Linked DNA regions of Homo sapiens: regions 1, 2, 3 and 4 are each reported to be linked to region 5. Evidence: microRNA targets listed by miRTarBase, many of them from high-throughput screens and not tested one by one. Region 5 holds a microRNA gene; each other region holds the end of a gene's coding sequence.
What was found. Region 5 holds the annotated microRNA hsa-miR-4486 (GCUGGGCGAGGCUGGCA, at 2,981-2,997, opposite strand). A microRNA usually pairs through its seed, bases 2 to 8, with sites in the 3' UTR of a target mRNA and lowers its output. Matches are read on the target gene's strand: a 7mer-m8 pairs with bases 2 to 8, a 7mer-A1 pairs with bases 2 to 7 and ends in A, and an 8mer does both.

Region 1 (4,000 bases), not on the chromosome of region 5:
TTTTTAGAGTGCTAGAGGGATGGGCCCTAACAAAAGAATGTTGAAGGCGGACAAGATTTGGGTGTCTGCTCATTGTGCGCCAGGGCTGAAGTCATGGGAAGAAACCCCGTGAGGCTCAAACGCTGACCTGTAGGGAGAAGGACAATTTTCTTTAACACTTACAATGATGTTCTTATTGTTGGTAAAAGGTGCTTAATACATTGCTATCAAATGCCTTTTGGGGGATGGGGCTTTTCAGAAAAAAAAAAAAGCACTCATTCAACCCAAGGAACTGTATAGTAAAGGGGTACGTTTCTCAATTTTAACTTACCATGTATCTTTGAAAGGTAGAATGATGTGTTCCAAGTTGCTTTTATAAGGGGAAGCTTGGGTCATCTCCTTCCTAGCAAGGACATCTTGCTATTCAACTCACAATTGTCACCACTCCTCTTGTTGACACGGTTTCATAGCACTCTTCGTTCCAGGCTAAAGTTTCCTGTCATGATTTTTGGGCATCCTTTTTGAAACAGTTAGACATTCTGACCTGGCAAGCTACTGAGACCTTTTAGGATAGCTGGACTGTAGATAGAAATCTTCCAGGGAAGTAGGTGTGGGCAGGATGTGTGGTTTCCCTGCCTCTCATTTGAAGACTGATTCAATTAATTTTTTCATGAACAGTCTCCTACAGTAAAAGTTGCATTCAGAGTGTTCTAAGAGAAACTGGAAGGGACAAGCTAGCTACTCATCTTCTTCAGTTTGAGTTGGGACTGGCGCACTATCTTTCTGAATGTCACAGAAATGCACAGCAGGGAAATTGTGCCACCAGCCCCCTCTGCTAATGGGACCTTGAGGACTCAAATTAGCCATAACAGTAACACACAGCAGAGCATGCACTTGTTTACCAGAGTAATCTGAATGATCAGGAAGATGCAATAACACATGTCTCAGCCTGGCTCTGAATGAGTACACAGCAGCCTGAACCTATGAAAGATATAACATTTCTAAACTTTTGGTGATATAACACATACACATTCTTTCTCTGACATTCCAGGCTAACCACTGTCTTAAGTTAAGGCTCTGCAAAACATCTGGGACATATGTTTCTGGAAAAAATTATAGCATCTTTTCTACAATTCTCTCTGGTCTGATCTTTGTTAAGCTCTGACCTGACAGAAGCCTCTGCAGCAGGATTACCTGTGGGGGCCCAGGGAAGCTGCCCCACAGCACAGAGAGGCATTCACTAAACGCAGTTCACTTTCCCTTACCATTCATTTACCTAGTGCCACTCAGGGAACAAAGTACAGAGCAGAGAAAGCCTTAAACAGCAATAAAATGCAGATGCTGTTGTCCCTGAAAAAATCACTTTCTTTCTAGAACAGTCAAGGCTTATTTCACCTCAGCCCCTGGTTGTATGATACTAATACGCTCTGATACTCCAGGGAAGCAACCAGTGACTGAGATTTGAGGATTAAAATCAAAGCACAATGAACTATCATTTGGCTGCCCCAGGCCCACTAAATCCAGACAGCAAAGTGTTCTCACCATTCTGAGACACCTTCGGCTACACATTTCTCCAGCCAAAAACCTAGGAAGATGTCCGGCTGACAGATGCGCCTGTTACATGATTCAGAGAAGACAGTTTTTTTGTTTTTTTTGCTTTTTTTTTTTAAAAAAAAAAAAAAGAAAAAAGGCTGGATCAGCCTCAGGATTTTAATCTTACATGATCGTGGATAATCATGTCTCTTTTCACAAAAATTCAATCACTTCACTAATCACTATTTATTAGATTTATATCATACTTATAAAGCAAAAGATTTAAGAGGAAAAAACCTATATATACTACAGGAGAGAATCTTCTCTTTTCTGTTTTTTATTTTGTTTTGTTTTTTTTTTTTTTGGCTGCTTTGTTAAAGAAGCAGAGGTTAGAGGGAAGGAAATGGAATTCCTGTTTTTGAGGAGCTCCTGGGCCAGGCACTGCACTAACTATTGTACTTCTATTCCAGTAGACATGGCACCACTAGAAACACAGTCTCAAGCAGGACCAGCGAAAGAATTCAGAGGGTCTAAAATATAAGTTCATTGTTTAAAAAAATATTCAGAAGTTCAAGAGAGTCACAGCAGAACATTAAACCAAGTGGAGGCCCTCTTCAGTGCAGAACTCTGTGTGACTGCACAGGCCACACACCCGTGAAACTGGCCCCACTAAGAAGTCAGGTTTACCTGAACTTGAATTCTGGCTTTGCTACTTACTACTCATGTGATCTTGGACAAGTCATCTGTAAAATGGGAATAATAACAGTCCCTACATCATTGAGTTTTGTTTTTTTTTTTTTTTTTTGAGACGAAGTTTCACTCTTGTCACCCAGGCTGGATGGAGTGCAATGGTGCAATCTCGGCTCACTGCAGCCTCTGCCTCCCGGGTTCAAGCGATTCTCCTGCCTCAGCCTCCCGAGTAGCTGGGATTACAGGCATGTGCCACCACGCCTGACTAATTTTTGTATTTTTAGTAGAGACAAGGTTTCACCATGTTGGTCAGGCTGGTGTCAAACTCCTGACCTCCAGTGATCCACCCGCCTTAGCCTCCCAAGGTGCTGGGATTACAGGTGTGAGCCGTCATGCCGGCCTAAACAAGAGATTTTAAAAGATACTCTGTATTAAGGCCAACTACTCAAAAAGCAAGACTGAAGTACAAAAAATGATACTGGTTTATGCTCAAGGTTCTGGAGGCTTGTGGAGTGCAAATTGTCATGAAGCCAATTTAATATAACTGCTTCCTTTATGCTGAAAGGATTCACTGGGGACATCACTGTTTCCATACAGGAAATAAAGCCTTTTGTATCTGAACCAAAACTCAGAAATACTTTTTTTCTCTCTTCTTTTACAATGCAGAATACTTTACAAAAAAAAAAAAAAAAAAAAAAAGCTGTAGGACAGGAAATATTACTAATCATACAAACTCTATATTTAGTTCTGTAAAAAAAATACTACTAAAACAGCCAGAAGAAAATTTGCAGGTAGTAATACATATTTTTATCTAGAAAAGAAATTTGGTTTACAGAGGCATAAACATTTAGTAGTTACGTTTATCAATGTTTGTTTCATAAGAGAAGCCTCAGTTTCTTCACTGAGTCATCTGTACATTTTTTATTCCTTACCATCAATAATTCTCAGGACTGTCAGACGCCTTTACAAGAAACATGTAGGGTTTTTTTCCCCCCAATTTGAGTACATACTACTGTTAACTGCAAAATTCTAAAGAAGTCAGTTGCCATTTGTCAAACAATTCGCCCAAGGTACACCGATTTGGGATACTTTTCTTTCAGAGCCGGCCACTGAACAATGAAGTAATCTGAGAGATGAAACAGAATCTTTCCGGACATGGATAACGTTTCTACACGGCAGATGCTTTCAACGTAGACAATGATCACTTTCTTTATTCCTAGTATCCCAAGGAGAAGGGCAGATACACAGATAGGAACACATGTTCCTGGTCCGTTACACAACACCTGAAAGAAAAAGTTGAAGGTCAAATGAAAATACAGAATAATAATCTAAGGGAGGCATTTTGCATTAAGAACAGCCTGATTTCAGAGGGGATCTGCTTATGATTCTAATAAGTCCTTCTCTGTCAAGAACCAGGATGCAGCAAACAGCGCATGTTTAAGCCCATGCACTTTGGAGCCAGGCAGAGCTGTGTTGTCTTGGCTCTCTTGCTTACCAACTGTGTGACTCAGGGCAAATCACTTAACTTCTAACTTCTAGCACAGTTCCTGGTGCTCAGTCAGCACTCATCGGACAGGCATGTGTTGCTCTTCTCTGACTGCTCTGTGGACCTTGAATGTCACATAAAAATACAGAAAACAAAATCAACTGAGATTCACTGTTTTCTTTAATGTACCAACTTATTCTTGATTTGGGAGAAAATATCTTTAATTGACTATGAAGATTTTTTTTTTTTTGAGATGGAGTCTCGCTCTGTTGTCCAGGCTGGAGTGCAGTGGCGTGATCTCGGCTCACTGCA
Region 2 (4,000 bases), not on the chromosome of region 5:
ATAACAACCCTGTGAAGTAGACAGGGTGATTATTATTATTACTACAGTGGCCCCTAAAAGTGGCAGAGCAAGACTTTGAGATTTCCAGCACAGGGCTCTTTGCACCACTAATGGTTTTCCTTTTAATTGTGTGTTCATTTAACATGGCTAGAAATCACAAACCCATTTGTTTCATTGAAGTTACTGAGGTTCGCTCTTTCAAATTTGAAACAATTTCAGTATTACCATGATTAAAATCTTAATATGTCAAAAAAGTTAAAGAAATAAGCTGCCACTGGAAGAGATGCAATTTAGCACAGACCAAGAAAATGACTGTTTCTCAAGTTATCAGTAAGCAAATACTGTTATCTTAATAGCATAGTCAACTACCTAAAGAAGCACAGGGAAATATACTCTAGCAAACCCCTGTTCTACTCAGTTATCAAGTTACAAGTGGAAGTAAAAGACTACAAACTGATGACTGAAACAGGCTTGGGCAAAATAAAAATGTATAATATTCTGGGGTGTGTGTGGAAGAGATGGTATGTAATTACATTAATGAAACAAAATACACAGAGTTGTAATGGTTTCCAAAATGTCTTGCTATCAAAGCATAATGCAGTCTCCCCATTATTGAGAGACTATTTCAATGTATCCTCAAACATTTCCACTATTACCTTCAGGGTTTATAATTGCTCATGCTGTATATAGTAAATAATATTAAAGTTATACTAGTGGTGGTGAAAATGCCCCTGTAGCCTTTAAGAGACAACAGCCTTAAGTACTACATTAAAAATGCTACCACAGAGAAGGGGGGCAAGTTGGATAATTAAATAAGAAGTAACATGCCACACTTTCCTACAGCAAAATGTAAGAATCGTTTTCCCCTTCTTGGAAAAATAATATAGAAGAGGACCTTCCAAAATCTATAATTCTTTCAGGAAAATGAAAAGTTTCATCAACATGTTTAAGGGCTAAACAAGCCTATTGTTGTTTCTAATTTACCGAAATGTCATTTCATAAAGACAATACTCAAACATGGTCTTTGCTTAGATTTGACACACAAATCAAAATGGTTAGCACATCATCATCAGACCTATCAGAACTTAAAAGGGCAGATAGGCCTGAAAGTGGTCTTGTTTTTCTGAAGTTACTAGAAATGGAACTGATATGATAATGAACTAGAGTATCAGTTCTGAGTGCTTTAGGTTTCAGGTCTCAAGGATGAATTGTGAAAGGAACAGCAAATGGAAACAGAAGGTAGCTTTGAGGGAAAGTTTATTTTGTTCACTATTGTATCCCCAGATTCTAGTCTAGAATACTGAATAAATAAACTTAGAAAGTGAAACCCTGGGTTTGAATCCTGGTTTTGTCCTTTTCTAGCTGTAAGACTTTGGAGCATTTACCAAACACATCTTGAGGGGTTCTTGGACGATAAAAACTGCATGTGTTCCATAAAGCTCTGTATATAGGATGGTTATTATATTCAGCCTATATGAAAGAACTTCTGGACCCAATGTGGGGAGTCATCTGAAAGCTGCTATTTATGTGGTATCACCCCAAACTGAGCATTTTCACTGATGAACAACTGAGGCCAATTTGATATGGTTGTATCTGAGGATGTAAAAATGAAACAGGAAGCTGAAAAGATGTATGCATTTCAAAATCATTTTGTCCTACTTTATTGCAATGAGTGCAAACACACACAGTCATAAAATACACAAAGATAGTTGTTACCTTTCTTTGGTCAGATTCTTTGAGAATGTTATGAATGCTAGAGATCCTTGTCCCCTCAAAATGAGCACACACACACACAAACAAACTGGTCCATACACATACACACACCAACATACTTGTAGGTTTGCTTTTTAGGCAACAGAGCATTCCCTAACTCGTTCCAAAGTCTATGATTCAAGTTAAGAATTACTGAAATAAAGAATAAGTATTTGGATTTACATGGGAATAGATATGGAATACACACCATACACACACACACACACACACACACACACATAATATATCCAAATATTTAATGACTATTTAAATAAGTCTTATACAGTACACAATTTCCTACTCAATCTGATATATGCAATTGCCACTGACAAAATTCTAGGAAAAGGATCAACTTATGCTCTGCATAATGAAGTGACAGATGCTCCTACAGTGTTCTGCAAACCACTATTTACTTGAAGCAGTTTCACAACTTCTATGTGTTTACAGCAGGGTTGAATTTGATATGACAACTTGGCTCAATGAGTATTACAGCCAATTTCTAGTGGACCCTGTATCTTGGAAGGTAAGGTAACCAACCACAGAATTCACTCATCTCTTCATTTAATAGTATAAAATGGAGCAAAATTATTTCCACAATCACTGGTGACTTCCTCAGCCTGTCTGCCTGTCCCAAACAAAGGCAGAAATGACACGTCTTTGTAGTGGTTCCCCTGATCTTTGAAATTAGTGATATTTACCAAGAGCATATTTTATAGTTCAGCTAATAGCTCCATCAAGATTATGTACATAAAGGCATTTTTAAAATTACTAACAATAGACAATACACAGTTCACACTTCCTATGGAGAAAAACACTTTACAGCAACACTTGCTATAGTATAAGTTTACTAGCTTATAAATTTTGCTATTCTAATTGAGCTTTGAGGAAAAAAAAGGAACCAGGAAAAGAGATGTTCTAGGGCCTAAGGAAACTTCAAATTTTAGTATCTGAACTACGCTATGATATGATTTCTTTAAATTGCCCAGGGTAATGAAAAAAATAGAGATTCATATGCAAATATCTTTGCTCAGTAAAAACCATAAATTTCAATAAGTATAAGCACAGGACAACCAAGAGTTTATTTTTATACTTCAGCAACCTGACAATCCATTCCTCATAGCAGTTTTCAGCTGGGCAATTATTTTAATTTTTTATTGTCTTTATTTCTGAATTTAAGGGTAGAGGGCACACACAAATGGTCAAATTCTCATTCAGATTGCAAAGGTATTAGTGTATTTTTTGTCATAGTCTACACTTGCAGTTTGGTTTTCTATGTCATAACTGAAAAACAGATCATTTCTCTTTCCCCTTTTCCTATGATCCCTTGTTTCACATCTATTCCCTGACACATTAAATCTCTGCAGTTTTAAGATGAATTGTGGTATCTTTATTTTGCAGATCCTTTCTCAAATCTGGCATCATGTTGCCTTCACCTGCCTGATTCCTTCCTTCTGATGGCAATGTTAAGGCTCATGGTTGCGATACCATTGAATGTGGCTTATGTGGAAACTGCCTCGGCTTGGCTCAGGGGATCTCTGCAGGGCCACAGTGGAAGATAGAGCCTTCTAAACAAAGACGCTGAAGAGTGGGAATTCAGCCTGATTGGGCTGCAGCAGGTCAATCAGAAAGCACACTGTCCCAGAGAAGCCTTCATACAAGCTGTATATACTTTCAAGGACCCGAGAACCGGCCTTGAATTCCTCGGTAAATAAGAATTGAGCAAACCTAAGAGAAGAAGAAAATATGAACAGTTTAACATGAGTGTTTCCATATTATGGACCTTGGGTTGCTTCTTCCTCTTCTATTAAAGTTTTAGCATAATTTTCTTTCCAGAATTATATAATTAAGTATTTTAAGAAACACATTTTCTCTGTTAAAGAAGAAGATCCATTATATAACTGTGTATGTTTCACAACAAATTATGCTGGCAAGCAAATCCAACTATTCTTAGAGTTTGCAAAGCAAAGCAGTTTGGAATTTTCAAGGATCTCATTCTTTCTGTCATCCAGTAATTAAAGTAAAAAAAGACAGACAAATTGCTCTACTTTTATTTATCTTGAAAAGAAGCAAAGTGATACGTGACTGTTCCTTTAAAAAAGTAAATATGCTGTGTTTCTGCAGACATTACCTCTAAGCTGGGTTTTTGTTTATATATGACAAAAAGCAGAGACTGTAAAAATAAATGGGCAAGATTTTATACAATCTGTGCTGTGAGCAAACAAGGGAATAAGATGAATAGGAAAAGGCA
Region 3 (4,000 bases), not on the chromosome of region 5:
TCTCTATCCATTGAGGCTGTTGGGCTAAGTGATCCCTAAAGGTCTTGTGATTTCAGAGTCAGAGCTCCATGGAGTTGGTGAGGGGCCAACTTTTTGGGGAGTTGAGCTTTTGAGTCAAATGTTGACAAAGGGGAGGAGCGTAATTGGTGGGAAGAAAGGAAACAGTGGGAGGAATGAGAGGCCTCCAGTCCCCAACACCCTACCTTCTCACAAGCTCCTGTATTTGCTAAGTCCAGAGCGCAAACAGACCAAGTGCACAGTTGTAAGGTTGCAGCGGTATCCCCAAGGCTGGGTTGCCCCATGCTAAGGCACGCTGTCTGTTTTCCAGGGTATCTTCATCAAAGATTCCAACTCACTGGCTTACTACAACATGGCCAATGGCGCAGTCATCCACCTGGCCCTCAAGGAGAGAGGCGGGAGGAAGAAGTAGACAAGAGGAACCTGCTGTCAAGTCCCTGCCATTTTGCCTCTCCTGTCTCCCACCCCCTGCCCCAGACCCAGGAGCCCCCCTGAGGCTTTGCCTTGCCTGCATATTTGTTTCGCTCTTACTCAGTTTGGGAATTCAAATTGTCCTGCAGAGGTTCATTCCCCTGACCCTTTCCCCACATTGGTAAGAGTAGCTGGGTTTTCTAAGCCACTCTCTGGAATCTCTTTGTGTTAGGGTCTCGATTTGAGGACATTCATTTCTTCAGCAGCCCATTAGCAACTGAGAGCCCAGGGATGTCCTACAGGATAGTTTCATAGTGACAGGTGGCACTTGGCTAATAGAATATGGCTGATATTGTCATTAATCATTTTGTACCTTGACATGGGTTGTCTAATAAAACTCGGACCCTTCTTGTGAAATCAGTTAAATAAGACTTGTCTCGGTCACCTGTGCCCTGTCCAGACTCGAGGCAGTGGTAACACTGCACAGTGCTATGTGGCTTCTCTTTGAGGATTTTTGGGTTTTGTAACTAAATTCTTGCTGCCCTCATACTTTTTATGTATTAGAATCATATTCGTATTGCCCTTTTAAAACATTGGGATCCTCCAAAGGCCTGCCCCATGTATTTAACAGTAATACAGGAAGCATGGCAGGCACCATGCAAACCAAGGATGGATGGTGCAGTCCCTGTGTCAGTGGGCGGTGGTTTCCTGCTGGCCTGGAATCACTCATCACCTGATTGATTGGCTCTGTGGTCCTGGGCAGGTGCCTCATAGGTGTGTGGATATGATGACGTTTCTTTAAAATGTATGTATTTAACAAATACTTAATTGTATTAAGGTCATGTACCAAGGATTTGATAAAGTTTAAATAATTTACTCTCTACTTTTATCCATTTTATCCATTTTAACTCATGTAATCCTCATGTGAGTATTCCTGTTTAACACTTGAGTAAACTGAGGCACAGAGAACATAAGTTGCATGCCATAGTCACACACTGTGAAAGTGAAAAGAGAATGTGTGCAAAACACGTCACAGTCCTGGTTTCTGAGTAAAGGCAGGCTGTTATCTTTAGAATCAAGCTATCACAGGGAGATAGGCAATGCTGTGGGTGTTGGAGGAAGGTGAGAGCCTGTTGCTAACAATTTCCTGGTTTTAAAGCTAAGGCTGATTTTATTGGGAAGATCTCACATGTGTGTGGCCCCTGAGAGTTCCCAGTGCCTTTTATTTGCAGTCCTTCCATTTGGACCTCCTAGCTGCCCCATCAGGTCATCTCCAGGGCTCAGAGGGGTGAGACCATTTCCCAAGGTCACAGAACCAGCTCTCTAGTCACCACCCTGCCTCTCCCTCTCACCCAGAGTCAGTACCAGTTTTATGGCTTTATTACAAACTGCTGGGTCCCTCCCATTTTCAACTTGATTGATGGGATGTCATCCCTTATCCTGTCTGACATTTGCCTCTGGCCTGGTTGCTAGAAGTTTGCCCCAGGGGCAAGAGTTGAAATTTGGCTTCCTGAGGTGGGCTTTGTGGTTTGCGTCCCTAAAGTGAGCCCACTACTGGTTGCTTGTCCATGGCCAACACCAGAAATCCCCTGAGCACTACCTGGGTCTCATTCCAAGAAGGAAGAGGGTCAGGAGACCTGGGGAGTCTCATATTCCAAGTTCTTCTTTCTTTCTGGGAGCAGTGGGCAGTTCATGGTGTTAGGGCACTCACCCCCACAGACTGGCAAACCCTGCAGGACTTCCGTGGCTGAGGCTGTGACCGGAGGCCAGGAATGCCGTTGGGTGGATTGTGAGTGAATGGGCCCTTTGAGCTGCCCTCTAGAGAGCAAATCCAGTTTCCTGGAGCTCCTGAATGAATATCTGTACTGGCTCGCTCAGATGCAGAAGCTCCATTGACCATGAGGCCTTGTGAACATCAGTGGCCACAGGCCCAGTGTGCTGCTTGGCACTGCACTAGTTTAGGACCTGCAGCATGTAGGTAGCGTCCTAGTGTTTATAATACAAAGCTGCTCTGCACAGCTTTTCTGATTCTTCTTGCAATCTCCTGAGGATTATCTGCCCCATTTTTAAAACGAGGTGGAATACCCAAGGTCATGTAGCCAGTGAGTGCTCTGGAAAGCCAAAGCAGCTCATCCCTTCCTGGGGACCACACTGCTCTGCTCCACCAGACCACACTATGAAATAGGAATAAGTGCTCCTGTTGCAGGACTGCTGGGAAAACAGGTGGTGTGGGACTTAAGTCACCATAATTTTGAAGACTTGCATGCAGAGGGCTCCAGGAATTGTAGACATTAAGGAATTTCACTTTCAGTTCTACCCACTACTTAAGTACTTGTCATGTACTCTTAGAGGAGGCCAGTAATGATCAGAACCATTTTACTTTAAAATTAATAATATTGTATTAGAGAATATATTAAATGGTTATATTGGGTTATGTTAGGATATATACTTGAATGGAAATACATGTACTATTAGCAATCATATTTCATTTATCCCTGTAATTAGACAAGAAAGCATAATATAGCTCTACTCATGGGTACACATACCAGTGTATAAGATTTTTAGAAGTTTACTTTTTAAAAATAAAAGCAAAATGTAAGATCTTAAGAGTTATGATCATTAACTCTACCAGATATGGAGATTTGCTGTTAACTATTCTGTATTGTTACATTTTTTTAATTCTGCATTGTTGCCAGGTGTAGTGGCTCACACCTGTAATCCCAGCACTTTGGGAGGCCGAGGCGGGCGGATCACCTGAGGTCGCGAGTTCAAGACCAGCCTGACCAACATGGAGAAACCCTGTCTCTACTAAAAATACAAAATTAGCCGGGCATGGTGGCACATGCCTGTAATCCCAGCTACTTGGGAGGCTGAGGCAGGAGGATCGCTTGAACCCAGGAGGTGGAGGTTGTGGTGAGCTGAGATAGCACCATTGCACTCCAGCCTGGGCAACAAGATTGAAACTCTGTCTAAAAAAAAAAAAAAAGGCTGCATTGTTATATAAAAGAACACTGCCTGGTGAGTTCCCTGACACCATGCCCTGACACTGCTCCCAGCATGTAAGTGAACAATTCTAGGTACCCCTGGACACTACAGTCCATGAAGCAGGACAAGATAAACTCCTGCCAGGCACAGTGACACACCTGTAGTTCCAGCTGCTTGGGAGGTTGAGGTAAGAGGATTGCTTGAGCCAGGAAGTTCAAAGTCAGCTTAGACAACATAGTGAGAACTCATCTCTAAAAAAGTTTTTTTAAATTAAAATTAAAATAGATCATTACAGAGAATACTGTTATAACAGGTGGCAGGTGCCTGTAATCCCAGCTACTTGGGAGGCTGAGGCAGGAGAATCTCTTGAACCCGGGAGGTGGAGGTTGCAGTGAGCCAGGATCACACCACTGCACTCCAGCCTGGGCAACAGAGCAAGACTCCGTCTCAAAAAAAAAAAAAAAAAAAAAAAGGGCATCTGGACTTTTGCTCATGGCCAGTGCTCACAGGTTTCCTGAGCACATGCCAACTGCACATTCCAGGATCCAGGAGAGGGGCCTATGTGAGATCCTCAAGCCCAGCTGTT
Region 4 (4,000 bases), not on the chromosome of region 5:
TCTAGGATAAAGTTTGTTGAAGCTCCCTACGAGGTGAGTGGCTGCAGAAATATTGTTCCTCTTGAGGGTTTAGGACAAATACTACCAATTCCAGCTTTGTCTTTAGAAAGTAGGCAGAATGGGGAACTTTCTTGAGTAGATGTGTATCAAGACAGTTGTTTTGGACCAACACTGTTTCCTATGGATGCCTTCTGACCATGAAGAAATGATTCTCAATTGTTTTCAGCTGGAAATAATAGCATCTTCCTTAGGGGACATTTGACAATGTGGGGTCGTGGTTTTTATTGTCCCAATGACTGACAGGGGTGGCTACGACTGGTATTTTCTGGGTTGGGGCTAGTGATGCTAACATCATGCAGGGCTTGTAGCAGTTACATACTACAAAGAATCATCTTGCTCAAAATGCTAATGTTCCCTCCCCATCCCCACTCCCAAGAAATATTATAGTCTAGTGCAAAGTTCAAAAGCTTATCATGGAAAATAACAAAGTTTCTGGGCCTTTCTGGAAGGAGGAAATGTTTACAGACTATTGGAGCTAAAGAAAAGGACGGGAAAATAGAGAAATATTCTGACCTTTAGTTTTCCTGCTTTTCTTTGAACATCTCTACCATGAAAAACAATAAAGTCACGATAACTCTTTTTCCATAGATCTAATCTGATGGAATCTTCAGTTGCAGAAGAAGTGAACAGAGTGGATACCCTCTCTACTCTCCTGTCACTGTAAAATCAGTTCTATGGAGAGAAGACTTCTTCGTCCTCATTTACCACCTCCCTGATGGTTGCAAAGGCTTGGGAAGGCATGTTGGAGTCTTTGACGGCAGCATGATCTATTTGGCTGGGGCATCTTACCTACCTTTTCAGTCCCTGCATTAATCCCCTCTAGGAACTCTGCGTGGATCGTTTGGAAATGTGAATCTCTTAAGTATTTAATTTTTTTGGTATGTCTAATTTATGAAGTCTTGCTGGGAAAGCCAGTGAAGTCTATGACTAGGAAACATTTTGTTGTACATTGTGCTGTGTGTGTGTATATTTTAGTGTTGTGGTGAAGTTATTTTCCAGGTATGTCCTAAGCTTCAGGGATCCAGTTTCTTGTCCTTCTGAAATATATCTGGTTTGTTTGGTCATTTTGAGACTTCCAGATGCCCTACCTCTGATGTTGAGGGCCACTTATTTCTCTCCTTATTCTTTCCCACCTGTACCTTGGCTACTTCCAAATTGTAGACAGAATGAGAAAGATTTATAGTGGAAGACTGAGTTAGCCATCCAAGCATTTTCATCTCTCTTGTTTTATATCCTATTTCCTTAGATTTTCCATCCATGTCTATTAAGTGACCACAAGAATAACTATATTCCTATCACAAGGGGAGCAAGAGGATGTAGTCTCAGTGACCCATCTCTGACCAAGTCCACATGTTGTGTTATATGTGGCTCTGATGGTTCTGCCAGTCATGATCTTTTTTCTGTGGCGACATCAGAAGTGTATGTTTGCATGCTGTCTTCAACTTAGAGGAGAACTGGAAGTCAGGAGCCTTTGATGTCCTTATCCTGCTGTATGTCTTCTCTGCATCTTTTTCTATAGGGCACCCTCCTTAGCTCCCCTCACTCTGTTTTCTCTTCTATTCAGGGATATGTTTCTGGACTTTTTCTTCTGCTACTTGAGTCCAGGATGCAACCATTTTGTCCTGCATCTCTTCTTTCCTGTAGAGCCTTTGAAGCATTGTATTTTGGGAAAATTCTTCTGTAAATACTATAACTTTTATAAATGGTTAAGTTATTTAGAATTATCTCCAGTGCTTACTTCTCCCTTCTTCTGTATAAATCTGCTACTTCAATTAAGTTCTCCTCTAAACTTTTAGGTCATTGTTTATATAGCAGAAAATTCAATGTTAGCGGATGGAAAACTGCTTCTTGAATAACCTTGATAGGTCATCCCTGAGTGCACCTCAGGTTCTCTCTTTACCTGGGCTTGTATCTTTTTTTTTTTTTTTTTTTTTTTTTTGAGACAGAGTTTTGCTCTTGTCGCCCAGGCTGGAGTGCAGTGGCACAATCTCGGCTCACTGCAACCTTCGCCTCCTGGGTTCAAGCGATTCTCCAGCCTTAGCCTCCCAAGTAGCTGGGACTACAGGTGCCCGCTACCATGCCTGGCTAATTTTTTTTTTTGTATTTTTAGTAGAGACGGGGTTTCACCATGTTGGCCAGGCTGGTCACGAACTCCTGACCTCAGATAATCCACCTGCTTCTGCCTCCCAAAGTGCTGGGATTACAGGCGTGAGCCACCATGCCCGGCTGGGCTTGTATCTTTTAGCTTGTGTTAGTAAAAGGATTCTAGAAAATTATGAAGTCCAGATTCAAAGGGATCTCTGTTAATTACCCACTGACAGGCATTATGACCTAACAGGAGGTTGGTAGCAGTAGATCCAAGCATGCATGTTGCCTGGCCTGTAGATTGGCCTTATCAGGTTTCTGGGTGCCTCTGCCTTAAGATCCTGAAGGCAAATTTTGTTTCAACAGTTTGGAAGTCATCTGTGGGTCCAGCTTGACTTTGGAGGAATAAGAAGATACTTCTAGAGTATGGGAATGATTCCAGATAATTTCTGGGATTTGAATCTACTTGAGTTTAAGGGCCTGGGACCTAATTTGGTTTAGTATAGAATTTGAAGAATTAATTTATAGGCAGCTGAATACCCAAAACTTGGGTGGTGGTCCTGTGGTTTGGCTGAGCTGTCCGGGCATAACCTGGTTCTCTGTTATGTTAAGGCTTTCTGGGAAGCCAGCCACTCTGCGCAGGAGTGAAACATGAAGTTGTTTTCTGAGGACCTGTTTTGGTGGGATTGTTTGGGCAGAGGACTGTGTTTATGCAGGGCAAATCCCAGAAAGATAAGAGGAAGCTAGAGAAACTTAATGTACCTGAATTCTTCATGGTGTATTTGCAAACTAACTTAACATAGATTCTTTTGACTATGGTAAGTTTGAATCTCTCCTTGCCAAACAACATTATAAGTTTAGTTTTCTTCTTCCTCTTGCAGCCGGTACAGAAAGGTGTAAGTGGTGGCTGAAAATTGAGGAAGCTTCATCTGACCAATGTGGGTGCTGGTTTCTTGTGAAATGTGTCCCTAAGCCTCCTTCTCCTTGCAGGCAGCCACCCACCCAGGTGTCTAAGATAGGACATGCTCCTTTCTTTCTCTAATCCCATCCTGAGGTTGCCGGCAAAGCCAATATGACCACTACTGAGAAATAGTAATGACTTCTACAAATGCAAGGGTCTTACCCTCCTCTTTCCCTTAAACACCCTCCCTTTTCCTTAGACCCCGTTTTTGCCATCCCCCAAATGTGTGGTATGGTGAAACTAATCCCCTGAATGTGAATTGCTATCCTTATTGCCCTATTAAAGAAGAGCCAGCTGGTATATTGTCAGGAAGCACTATTTAAAATGTGAACTGTTATAGAGTAAATAAATAAATACTCTACAGGAATACACTTGTGTGCCATTCTCATTCGTCTTAGTCATCAAGGATGGTTTGTTTCCCCATATGGAAAAGAGAACGGGCAAGTAGATGGGTGGCATTCTTTTTTTTTTTTTTTTAAGTTCTAGGGTACATGTGCACAACGTGCAGATTTGTTACATATGTATACATGTGCCATGTTGGTGTGCTGCACCCATTAACTCGTCATTTACGTTAGTATATCTCCTAATGCTATCCCTCCCCCCTCCCCCCACCCCATGACAGGCCCGGTGTGTGATGTTCCCCACCCTGTGTCCAAGTGTTTTTATTGTTCAATTCCCACCTGTGAGTGAGAATATGCAGTGTTTGGTTTTCTATCCTTGCGATAGTTTGCTCAGAATGATGGTTTCCAGCTTCATCCATGTCCCTACAAAGGGCATAAACTCATCCTTCTTTATGGCTGCATAGTATTCCATGGTGTATATGTGCCACATTTTCTTAATCCAGTCTATCACTGATGGACATTTGGGTTGGTTCCAAGTCTTTGCTATTATAAA
Region 5 (4,677 bases):
CAGGGCCTGGCTCACAGCACCTTCTGGAAAGCCATTACAGCAGCTACAGCAGCACGCGCAGCGTTAATTTATGAAAATCTCAGCTTGTAAAAGCCCAGCTCGCAGGCAGAGCCGGAGGAGGCAGAGGCACTCTGCACTGGAGATGCATGAACTGCTATTTGCTTCTCTTACAGCCACAAAAGGAAATGCTGGCGAGGGCTTCAGAGAAGGGGTGGTGGGGAGGGGACGCTGCTGGATTTAATAGGAGGAATACGAGTCATTTGTCTTATTGTAAAATAGATGTGTGTTTGGAAGCAGAAAATGCTCTGGATCCTTTCTTTCCTCCCCTTGCAGGCATGAAAAGCCTTGAGCAAAACAAAATGCTGCTGATTTTGAGTCTATTTTGGGCGCCTGTCGCTGATTGTCTGCTTCCGAGGCCTGTGCACATGCTGCCTTCTCAAAGAATGGTTTTAACAAATTGAAATGGAATGAATGAGCATCTTGCTCCTGCTGCTGCTGCCACCATTGGAACAGAAAGCAGCCCCCAATAGTGGGGCCTGGTCCATGGCTCCTCAATTCTTCCCTCTCACCCCAGATGCCCACCCAACCCACACCCCCATCCACACAGTGCTTGCTGGCTCCCGAGTTAGGCTGCTCACCCCATGCCAGGAAGCTATTTACCAAAGGAAATAACTGTGATAAAAGGGCTAAAAATAGGCAGCAGTGATGGAAAACATTTTGTTGAGAGATCTGCTGACAAGAGGGGAAACAGAGCTGTGAAAAAGATAGGTGGTGAAGGACACAGAGGGAGAAGTGGCTACACTGAGCATCTAGGGGGCCCAGGAGGAGCCGGGGTCAGGGCCCAGAGGCCAGGTGGCTCACACAGATGGCTGCGCCCTCGTGGCAGATCTTCCCTGTCAGCGGCCCTACCCTTGTGGTATTTCACCCAGCCTTAGAAAAGTGAAGGGGCACGAGCCAACAGGTTCCTTCGCCAGGTGGGTATCTGAGGACAGGTATCTGAAAAGCAGCCCCATGAAGGAAGCAAATAGAACGCTGATGGAGGCTGACCACACATTTGGCTTTCGCCAGTTAGCAACACACGGACGTTGGACAAGCTGCTTAACTTCTCTGAGCCTCAGTTTCCTCATGTGATAAATAAAGATATGCTTAGACCCACGTCATAGGGCTGTGGTGATAATCCATGCACACTATTTACCAAACAGTGGCATTATTCCGGTCATTCAGGCTTTTACAAACATGGATTGAGGGCTTTCATTGTGCAAGGCACTTCCTGGAACCCAGGGATTCCTTGAAGTAAAAGACAAATTCCTGCTGTAAGATACTTTAATTCCTTAGTGAACAAGGAATTAGAGTAGAGAAGGGGGAGCTGTCCTTAGAAATATATAACCAGCACCACTCAGCCTAAGACAGCCAGATGGAAGGACCCCAGGACACCTTCCCAGGCCACAGACACATCCATTCCATCCAATGCTGTGTGTCTGCTATGCACTGTGTACTGAAGAGGGAATGATGAGAAAGGCTCAGGGTTCCCTTCTGAAGCCCACAGACTGGTAGAGAAGACAGGGAGGGAAACAGATATATGTTATTCACGTGAAAAGGACCATACAGAATTAGGTTTAAGAGCTCTCTTTGGGAGCAGCAGATCTTTGAAATTTCCAGGCACCGGAATGTGTAAGTTTTACAACAAGCTAAATATATACAAGTTAATCATATTCATGTATTTGCATAAATTAATAAACAGCAATTATATATTATAGCAATTTCTAAGTAATATCCCCAAATAACTATCTCAATATACCAAAATAGTAACAATGGTTATTTCTGGGTGGTGGAATTATGGGTGATTTGTATTTCTCCCCAAATTCTCTACAATTAGTATGCATTATTTTTGTAATAGAAAAACAAACAAATGAAACATGAGTAAGAAGCGAGTGGTTTCAAAATACCCTGCAGATGGGAAATCTGTTCGCTTGCCTTGGATTCAGCTGAAAGCCTCTCTATGACTTCAAGAACCATCAAAAGTTTGAAGTAGCTTGAAAACAGGTTTTTGCATCAGAATGCGGCAAGGCTGCCCAGTCTCTGGCCAAGTGGGTCTGATCCCTTACCTGTTTATTTTGTGGCTGAGGATCAGAAAGGAGTATGCTAGCTTGGAATGGAGAGTGTAGACAGAGGAGGACCCATTCCACAAATGGCTGTGTGCAAAGGGCACTTAGGCCTGGATTTGAGCACTTTTTCTGCCATACACTAGATGTGAGATCTTGGGCCAGTTATTTCACTCCTTTGAGCCTCAGATTCCTCACTCTGTATGACTTAAAAAAGCCATCCTGAACCACCCAGGCTCAACTGGGCATCTATTAGAGTCCACACCGTAATCTGCTCAGCCCTCTGTGTTACAATGGGCTACAACTTAAAACTAGGGAACACACCTTGTCCACAGCTGTGATTCCCTTACCTCTCATAGTGCCTGGTACAGTGACCTTCAATACACATTTGCTGAATGAATGAGATGCCAAAGCTCATGCTAGGTCCTGTAGCTGCAGAGATGAACGACATGGATCCCTGGCCATCGGGAGCTCCCACTTTAGTTGGAACTCAGTCTCCCCAACACAATATAGATGATGACCAATGCCTTAAAGGGCTTATGTGCAAAGAGAAACTAGAAGAATGGGGAAGAAAAGGTGAATTTCCCCAGGGGTGTCTGAGGAGGTACTTGCATAGGGGGGTAGAATCTGAGCACAGTCTGGAAAAATGAGTAGAGCTTCTCCTGCGGGTACAGAGACAAGGCAGGCAAAGGTGTGGAGTGGAGCAGGAATGTGCACAGCAAGGAAGAGGCAAGAGCAAGGCTAGGGCCAGGCGTGGAGCACCGTGGATGGGTCTGACTGGCATTCTGGCTGCTGTAGGAGCCCAGGCTTAGAAGGAGAGCTGATGGGCTCCTTTCTCATTGCAATGGCAAGAGCAAGCATCTACCGCCTGTGCTAGATGCCAGCCTCGCCCAGCATGCTTCCACCTGCCCATCAGGAGGGCAAGGCAATAGGACCAGTTTGGGGTTAATCACTGCTAAATCTAGTCTGCTGCTAAGAACCCCTCTAATTTAAACCAGCATCTGTGAGAAGGGCCAGCTTTGGCAGGGGCCTTGAGGAATGTGGACATGATTAACCTCTGCCAGTTGCAGCAAATTAACTGCAAAAAGAACATCCTGGCAGCACCCCGGATCTTAAGTGCAGCCAACCCTTGAAGATGCAGGCTGATTGCTTTGCCTGGGCTGGAAGTGCAAAGCTGTGTCTTTACTGGGCACTTCCCATTAGGAAGTATAGGGGCACCAGCTAAACTCCATCCCTCCTCAGGGCCTTCACCTGTGCTATTTCCTCGGCAGGAAACCCCTTCGCCCAATTGAGTATGGTTGGCCTGTTCTGATCTTTCAAGTCCTGCTTCAAATGTTGTTTCCTTTGTGATGTCTTCCCTGACTCCCCATCTAAGGTGGCTTTGCTATTCTCCCCACACTCATCACTTTCTGTTCCACCATTCTATTTTCTACTTTTCAAAGAGTTTATTTTCTTGCATGGTTGTTCATTTCCTTTCTCTCTACCTAATTCTAACTGGACCTATGCTCCACGGTAGCAGGAACCTTGTCTTGCTCACAGCTGTATTCACTATGTTTGGCACTTAATAGGTGATCAACAAAAATAAACGGGATGGAAGGAAGGAAGTAAAGAAGGAAAAAGAGGGGGTTTCTAATACAATGGCTCCAAAATGTCCACCAAAGCACTTAGCCCCACTGCCCTGGGAAGATGGCTCATTACCCATGAGCCCACGGAAAACCTATAGGCCAGGGCCAGGAGTGTTGGAGCCCCAGGGACAACACAGGCCAGGAATCTGATGCTAAAGGAAGAATAAGGGACTAGGAAGGGAATTAACATTTATTGAGCACCTACTGCTCAATAGTGCCAGGCCTGTGGTTACTGAATGAAACCTCTCATTTTACAGATGAGGGGGGCTGTAGCTAATAATAAATCATAATAAACATAAAATATCTAACATTTATTTTTGCACCTGGGCTAATCACATTGCATATATTTTCCCAACAAGTTTGGGAGGTAAGCATGATTACTGCTCCCATTTTGTAAGCAGTGGGAACCAGGAATGCTCAGTAACTTGCTCAGTTTTATACAACTAGCTAGTGGCAAAGCCAGGATCAGAACTCAAGTCTTTCCAACTCTTGTCCAACATCCTCTTTTGACAGAAAATGCCCTTCACACTATCATGATGGCTGGTTTGGCCCTGCCTTGCAGCCAGCTCTCCAGGGAAGTTGCTGGAAGGAGCCCTGCCCCAGGCCATGGTTCTAGGCAGACTTCAGACAATCCCCAGTCATCCACCAGCTGCTCAGCAGGCCAGTAAATTAGCCTGCCACCCCCAAGTGCTGAAAGCACTTGGGCCGCCTGACACAGCACCCTTGCCAAGAGCCTCCCACAGACACAGGCAGGTGAGGAGGGATGGGCCTTCTAGCCCTGCAAAGCAGCCAGCTCAGAAACCACCCAGGGAGGCCTCCCTGACAGGCTGGGTACAGGGGAGGGCTCAGGCAGCACTTTCTGTCCAGGAGAAGAAAGCACAGTCCTCAGGCTCTACCACCTACCTATAAGCTGGTGACCAGATAAGTTTCTTAATCTCTCTAAGACCTAG

Region 1: miRTarBase lists ALG14 as a target of hsa-miR-4486. The part of its 3' UTR that is shown has no 7-base or 8-base seed match.
Region 2: the mRNA of LANCL3 is a reported target of hsa-miR-4486. The part of its 3' UTR that is shown has no 7-base or 8-base seed match.
Region 3: miRTarBase lists SF3A1 as a target of hsa-miR-4486. The part of its 3' UTR that is shown has no 7-base or 8-base seed match.
Region 4: miRTarBase lists FAM234B as a target of hsa-miR-4486. Seed matches in the 3' UTR shown: 7mer-m8 at 2,021-2,027.

The regions. Positions count from the first base shown.
Region 1 is chr1:94,979,822-94,983,821 of GRCh38, forward strand. ALG14 (ALG14 UDP-N-acetylglucosaminyltransferase subunit) reads right to left here. Exons shown (of 4, transcript NM_144988.4): 4 at 1-3,485. The coding sequence ends at 3,255. Among named protein-coding and RNA genes, the nearest start is that of CNN3, 55 kb to the left of the region's middle.
Region 2 is chrX:37,675,131-37,679,130 of GRCh38, reverse strand. It overlaps LANCL3 (LanC like family member 3), which reads right to left. Exons shown (of 5, transcript NM_001170331.2): 5 at 1-3,477. The coding sequence ends at 3,318. Among named protein-coding and RNA genes, the nearest start is that of XK, 8.7 kb to the left of the region's middle.
Region 3 is chr22:30,331,024-30,335,023 of GRCh38, reverse strand. SF3A1 (splicing factor 3a subunit 1) reads left to right here. Exons shown (of 16, transcript NM_005877.6): 16 at 329-3,036. The coding sequence ends at 430. Among named protein-coding and RNA genes, the nearest start is that of TBC1D10A, 6.1 kb to the right of the region's middle.
Region 4 is chr12:13,079,977-13,083,976 of GRCh38, forward strand. It overlaps FAM234B (family with sequence similarity 234 member B), which reads left to right. Exons shown (of 13, transcript NM_020853.2): 12 at 1-33; 13 at 649-3,473. The coding sequence ends at 654. GSG1 (germ cell associated 1) reads right to left here. Exons shown (of 7, transcript NM_001080555.4): 7 at 3,556-4,000. Among named protein-coding and RNA genes, the nearest start is that of GSG1, 22 kb to the right of the region's middle.
Region 5 is chr11:19,573,634-19,578,310 of GRCh38, reverse strand. It overlaps MIR4486 (microRNA 4486), which reads right to left and starts at 3,001; the gene lies at 2,939-3,001. It also overlaps a transcript of NAV2 not described here.